Homo sapiens: one gene and its partner. The protein of the gene in region 1 purifies or fractionates together with the protein of each later gene. This does not show direct contact. Each region holds a gene or a part of one and is shown on either strand. Other genes may lie near its edges.

Region 1 (3,820 bases):
CAGGGCACGATTATGGCTCACTACAGCCTTGACCTCCCTGGCTCAAGTGATCCTCCTGCCTCAGCCTCCTAAGTAGCTGGGACTAAAGGTGCACACCACCACACCCTGCTAATTCTTGTATTTTTTTTGTAGAGGCAGAGATTCACCATGATGCCTAGGCTGGTCTCAAACTCCTGAGCTCAAGCGATCTGCCCGCCACAGCCTTCCAAAGTGCTGGGATTACAGGCGTGAGTCACCACGCCTGGCAGCAACACAGATTTTAAGTACAAGGAAGGAAATGAAGGCAGGAACTGGTGGGGAATCTGGGGCCTCTATTTCCCTTCTGTGGTTCATCATTTTAACCAATAACCCAGCGAACTGACCCGCTCGGCAACTCCAACCATGAGGGTCACTACCTGATTCTCATAGGCCTCCTCTCGGCGGCGGATGGGGACATCGCTGGCACACACATACACGTAGACCTGGTTGTCACAGGCAATGCCCCAGCAGCACTGCGTGGTGGCGCTGACGCGCTTGAACTCCAGCTGGGAGTCCTTGCACATTTCCCAGTACTGGCCTGCTGTGGACAGCGTGTACACTCTCCCGAAGAGGTCCACCGCCCACAGCACTGAGTTGGGCATGGCAGCGGCTGGAGGTAACCTGCGGCAGGAGGACGAGGGCCAGCGTTCAGGCTCCCAGCCCAGGGGACATCAGAGTCATGTGAAACCTGGGAGACTTCTACTGTGACTATTTATTCTTTTTCTCTTTTTTTTTTTTTTTAGATGGAGTCTCACTCTGTCACCCAGGCTGGAGTGCAGTGGCGCAATCTTGGCTCACTGCAACCTCCACCTCCAGGGTTCAAGCAATTCTCCTGCCTCAGCCTCCCAAGTAGCTGGGATTATAGGCACCTGCCACCATACCCAGCTAGTTTTTGTATTTTTAGTAGAGACGGGGTTTCGCCACATTGGCCAGGCTGGTATCGATCTCCTGACCTTGTGATCTGCCTGCCTCAGCCTCCCAAAGTGCTGGGATTACAGGCGTGAGCCACCGCGCGTGGCCAACTGCTTATTCTTTCTTTTTTTGTTTATTTTTTTGAGACGGAGTCTCGCTCTGTTGCCCAGGCTGGAGTGCAATGGCACGATCTTGGGATCTTGGCTCACTGCAACCTCCACCTCCCAGGTTTTCTCCTGCCTCAGCCTCCCCAGTAGTTGGGACTACAGGTGCACGCCACCACGCCTGGCTAATTTTTGTATTTTTAGTAGAGACATGATTTCACCATGTTGGACAGGCTGGTCTCGAACTCCTGACCTCAGGTGATCCACCTGCCTCTGCCTCCCGAAGTGTTGGGATTAGAGGCATGAGCCACCACGCCCGGTCTCTTTTTTGTTTTTGAAAGAATTTAAAAATAGATCACTTGAGGCCAGGAGTTCAAGACCAGCCTGGTCAACATGGTGAAACCTCATCTCTACTAAAAATACAAAAATTAGCCAGGCACAGTAGTGTGTGCCTGTAGTCGCAGCTACTCAGGTGGCTGAGGCAGGATAATGGCTTGAACCCGGGAGATGGAGGTTGCAGTGAGCAGACACAGTGCCACTGCACTGCAGCCTAGGTGACAGAGGGAGACCCTGTCTCAAAAAAAAAGAATTTAAAAAGTAGAGACAGGGTCTTGCTCGGTCACCCAGGCTGGAGTGCAGTGGTTTGATTACAACTCGTTGCGGCCTCGAACTCCTGGGCTCAAGTGATCCTCCTACCTCAGCCTCCTGGGACAACAACAGACATGCACCACCATACCCAGCTAATTAAAAATTTTTTTTTTGTAGAGACAGAGTCTCACTATGTTGCCCAAGCTGGTCTCAAACTCCTAGTCTCAAGCAATCCTCCCATCTCGGCCTCCCAAACTGCTAGGATTACAGCCTTGAGCCACCATGCCTGGCCAGATCTTTGTTTTCAAAAGAATCAATGAAAGCTTACAGGTTTAGTTGAATCTCGAAAGATATAACTACCCCACTACTTCCCCAGGGGTCCTTCCCCAGAGTGGGCAGGTCTCCCCGCCATGTTGGCCTCTATCTGGGCATAATGAGGGCACGTTGAGAGCCAACGTGACCATGTGAATTCAGGGACGTAGGGGTCTTTTCTTCATGCGCCCTCAGTGACTCCTTCCTCCTCTTCCCCCGGCTCTCTTCTTCTGCCATTCTCTACTCCTTTCTTTTTCTTTTCTTTTCTTTTTTATTTTTTAAGAGAGTATCTTGCTCTGTTGTCCAGACTGGAGTACAGTGGTGCAATCATAGCTCACTGCAGCCTTGAACTCCTGAACTCAAGCCATCCTCCTGCCTCAGCCTCCTGAGTGGCTGGGACTACAGGCATGTGCCACCGTACCTGGCTAATTTTTAAAATTTTTTTTGTAGAGATGGGGTCTCGCTATGTTGCCCAGGCTGGTCTTGAACTCCTGGCCTCAAGCGATCCTCCCACCTTGGCCTCCCGAAGCGCTGGGATTATAGACGTGAGCCACTGCACCCAGCCCTTTCTCTCTTCTTTCTCTGTGCTTTGTAGGCATAGCCAAGGCTATTGCTAAGCTCTGCCACTGACCACCCCTGGCCCCACCTCCAGGGCCCATAGTGCTGTTGCACCCAGGGGTGTCCTTCCTGGAGTCCTGGCTCCTGATAGGAACAGTCTTTCCACCGTGGCAGGGCCACATGGCCACACACAAGGCAGCCAAACACAGAGCTACTGGATGAAGCCACCAGGGCCATCACCTGAGAAGCTCTGCCCGACAGGGCGGCTCCTAGATCCAACCCAGGACACTGGCCCGGGGCCTGAAGAGAGGAAAGAGCCTACAGATGAAGACATGGCCAGTCTGACTTAAAAACCGGAGCAAAAGGAGACAGGCAGAGTTTATTTAGGTGCCTGGAGGCTGGGCCCAGTGCTCCCGCAGCATACCAGAGCCATGCGGGTGCTCCAGACGGCCGGGTGACTGTGACGATGGCACGAGATAGAAGCATGTCTGAAAAGAGGAGCAGCTGCCACCGGCAAAAAAAAAAAAAAAAAAAAAAAAAAAGCCAGGTGTGGTGGCTCACACCTGTAAACCCAGCACTTTGGGAGGCCAAGGCGGATGGATCACCTGATGCCAGGAGTTTGAGACCAGCCTGGCCAGCATGGTGAGACTCCATCTTTACTGAAAAAAAAAGGTGAAAATTAGCCAGGCACAGTGGCGCGTGCCTGTAATCTCAGTTACTCAGGAGACTGAGGCAGGAGAATCGCTGGAACCAGGAGGTGGAGGTTGCAGAGAGCCGAGATTGCACCACTGCACTCCAGCCTGGATGACAGAGTGCGACTCCGTCTCAAAAAAAAACAAAACAAAAAACTAGGCTCTTTGGGGACAAGGTGCATCTTTTTTTTTTTTTTTTGACAGAGTCTTCCTCTACTCCCAGGCTGGAGTGCAGTGGCATAATCACAGCTCACTGAAACTTCCACCTTCTGGGTTCAAGTGATTCTCCTGCCTCAGCCTCCCAAGTAGCTGGGATTACAGACCTGCACCACCACATCTGGCCCATTTTTGTATTTTTAGTAGAGATGGGGTTTTGCCACTTTGGCCAGGCTGGTCTCGAACTCCTGGCCTCAGGTGATCCGTCCCAAAGTGCTACGATTACAGGCAGGAGCCCCTGGCCCTGGCTGGGACAAGGTATATCTTACAAACACCAAGAAGACAGATTGCAGGTTGAGAAGGAAGTGAGTGAGAGGGTGAGGAACAGGAAGACAGGAAGCAGAACAAAAGCTCAGCTCTGGGAAACTCCCATAACAGGAAGTGGGGGAAAAGAATAGGAGGGAGACTGCCCAGCAGAAT
Region 2 (3,536 bases), on another chromosome or scaffold:
CGATCTCCTGACCTCGTGATCCACCCGCCTCGGCCTCCCAAAGTGCTGGAATTACAGGCGTGAGCCACCGCGCCCGGCCACTCAGAGTAGTTTCTTTGATTTTTGCTGAGCTCTTGTATAGAAAACCAACCTATGTTGCAATTGATAAGCGAGAATAATTTTAGTATGAATGCTGGTTGATATTTCTGTTTACATTAACGAGGAAGAGGAAGTGAGAAAACACATGTTGGATCTTCACTAGTTCATCAGTGATACGGGCAACTTCTTTGTTGAACTGGGTAAAACTTTTCAGATACTGCAGGAATATTTTCCTAAACTATTTGTGCTACTCGTTACAGCTACAAATATGCAACACTTTTAATATGCATCACTAACATTTTCTCCATCACTTTCTTAGGTCTAGCGTAGACAACAAAAATAAATAAATCAAGCCCTGGTGTGTAGCATTTGCTGGTTTTCCTGAGGTAAACATTCTACTATCATTGATTTCAAGCTACCAGCAAGTCACTGAATGTAGGGTTGGCAAGAGATGAGCAGAAACACACCATTGTGTAGTATTTCCAGGATACAGATAAAATAGACATAAATAATCCTGAGTAATATTCAGGAAGTAATTTTGAGTGCTTTATTACCTTTATTTTTAATATATTCAGTTGTAGGTTTATATAGTTTAATTTTTTTATTAGTGTCTGTTTAACAATCGGTTCAATTTAATATTCAGCTGAGTGGTTTAAATATGAGATACCACTGTGATTATGCCTCCTCATTCTTGTCTTTCCTCCTCAGACTTTTTATAAGCCCATGGCCCTAAACTCTCAAGAAGGAAATGAGTGTCCTTAGAATGTGACCTTCCTCTCCAACTTGTCCCACACCTGCTAAGACACAGAGTGGAAGGAGCTGAAAAGCCAGAGACCCACTTAAGATCCAGAAGCATAAGCAGCAGTTGCAGAGAGGCACACAGACTAGCCACCCATCTCTCAAGAAGAGTTGTTCCAAGTACAGGTTTGGAATCTTCAGTCTGAAAACGGGGTCTTTTGATCTCTCCCCACTTTGGTGCAGTCTGCTCCGATTAGTGCCGAGATTGAGACTGGAACAAACCATGGTAGCTGTCAATGGCACAAGGACCCCATCTGCTCCAGACTTGACTGACCCTGGCTCTTGTACTCCCTGCCACCCACTCCTACACCCTGTCTTCCCTCCTTCTCCAATGACAAGAGATATTCATTGAAACAACCTTGCTCCCATTTCTCTATCTGCAGCAGGGCTGAATTGAAATTTCTTATGTCCAAATGCCCATTCTCTGAATAAAAAAATATTTTGAAACCAGACTTTCTAATCAACAGATACTAATACGCTATACAGTGAATAGCATGTCTTTATTCTATTTACAGTATATTTGTTATAAATATAATACATTTTTGAAAAGCTTATTTTTAATTAACTTGAGATTTATATTTTAAACAGATCAACTCAATAGTTAACGTTATATAATAAAGAATATGGTAATTTTAATGACAAAAATCGTATTGTGAAATAGCGCACTCTATACTGAGATGAATGAGGGGAAAAAAGTCAAAACTCCTTTCAAAACTATATTCAAAGCATCAGAAAAAATTTTTTTTTCTTTTTACAAAGTTATGTATAAGTCATAGGGACCACCAAATACTGAAATATGAAGACTCTATGACCAAAGTTCAAAACTGATTTTAAGGAACTGTGTGAAGCAAGACAGGAAAATTTGTATTTAACACTCTATAGAACTTCACAGTAAAGCTGGAATTTAGAGACTAATGGCTTAACAGGAGTACTGCCAACAAGGCCTTTCCTTTCTCAGAATCATCTCCTAATATTCGTATACCATTGACAAGTTGTAACAGCAGACTTAGACTTTGTGTTTTCTTAAGATGGGGCTTAATAAGGTGCACAAATATGCTGATATCCTGTATTATGAGCATGTAAATTATTCTCAGGGTTTAAAGAAATACAGAAAAAGAATGTTAAGTATTCTCAGTCCAACGTGCTTTGCATCATCAACAAAATGACAAGTCAAAGTATTTTGCAGGGATCAGATATCAATCAACCTCCATAACAAGTTAGGTATATCAAATACTGCTGTAAAACCCATCCAGCAAAAACTGATTATTGTGGATTTCAGTACAAATTTCCAAGTTGTCACACATTACTGATGATGATCAGGGCAGGCATGGAATTCTGCTGACTTGTTTCAAACACTGTAACTTGGTCCGATAACTTGGCAAATACCCTAGGAGTTCCAAGGTTATAAACACCTGTATGAACAAAGCATGCTTTCAGCTGCAGACTGTGAATCTCCTGGCTTTTAAGTTGAAGTTTATACTGTGTTTGTCCAAGCCATGTGAATGATCCATGGATTTCCAGTGCTTCTGGACTAAGGGAGGAGGAAAATGTAAGTTGCAGGATTTTTTTCTTTTTAATTTTTTTCCCAAAGTCACATTAACATATCCCTTTCAGCTGGGCGCGGTGGCTCACGCCTGTAATCCCAGCACTTTGGGAGGCTGAGGCAGGTGGATCACCTGAGATCAGGAGTTCAAGACCAGCCTACCAACATAATGAAGCCCCGTCTCTACTAAAAATACAAAATTAGCCAGGTATGGTGGTGCACGCCTGTAATCCCAGCTACTCAGGAGGCTGAGGCAGGAGAGTCACTTGAACCTGGGAGGCGGAGGTTGCAGTGAGCTGAGATTGCACCACTGCACTCCAGCCCATGAGAGAGCAAGACTCCATCTCAAGAAGAAAACAAACATCCCTTTCATCTAACAATTCTATTTCTAAAAATTATTTTATGAAGCCAACTGTTTATTAATAATAGCAACATCATTACTATAACAGCTAACATTTATTATTTAATAGTTTCTATTCTCTAGGCACAATGCTAAAAGTGGATTATTTCATTTAATGCCCTAAGAGTTAGTATATGTTGGAACTTGATTTCAAACCTAAACTTTTAACTCCTTAGTTAGCCATATATAAGTGTCTGTACATGAATGCTTTTAATATTGAAACTGTTTATAATATTGAAAAATGGAAAACCCAGTACCCAATAAAGTATTAATAAATTTATGATACACAAAATCACATATATAGGTGTGTGTTTGGATTTCAGAGAACTGTCCCAGATCCTGTTTGGGGTGTTATACAAAAATATTAAGTATACGCTTTATAGTATTTTTCCAAAAATTCAAAAATTTCTGAATTCCCAAAAGCATTTGGCTCTAGGAGTATCTGATGTGGGACTGTGGATCTGGATTTTTTTTTGTTGTTAAGTACTATTTTATAATCAAGAAAAAAAAATCTTTAATATTTAAAGCCTCTGTAACACATCTGTAAGCCTTCTATATTACCAAACAAAAAACCAGGACAAGCTTGAGTAACTTTCTTATCCATGTTAGGTAATTATTTGCATAATTTCAAAATATTAAATTGCTCCCAAATCAAATAACCTTGCACTAAACAAATCTTTACCTTGTTGTTTTATGCCGAAGATCAACTATGACATC

What was found.
Region 2: the proteins of TECPR1 (region 1) and TRAPPC8 purify together in Homo sapiens (affinity purification with mass spectrometry; one large-scale study listed by BioGRID and IntAct). This does not show direct contact.

What each region holds. Positions count from the first base shown.
Region 1 is NC_000007.14:98,245,527-98,249,346, forward strand, and holds part of TECPR1 (tectonin beta-propeller repeat-containing protein 1), read right to left. Parts: intron 640-3,820; 5' UTR 621-639; coding exon 396-620; intron 1-395. UniProt on the Homo sapiens protein: Tethering factor involved in autophagy.
Region 2 is NC_000018.10:31,828,583-31,832,118, forward strand, and holds the end of TRAPPC8 (trafficking protein particle complex subunit 8), read right to left. Parts: coding exon 3,502-3,536; intron 2,408-3,501; coding exon 2,173-2,407; 3' UTR 615-2,172; downstream 1-614. UniProt on the Homo sapiens protein: Plays a role in endoplasmic reticulum to Golgi apparatus trafficking at a very early stage. Maintains together with TBC1D14 the cycling pool of ATG9 required for initiation of autophagy. Involved in collagen secretion.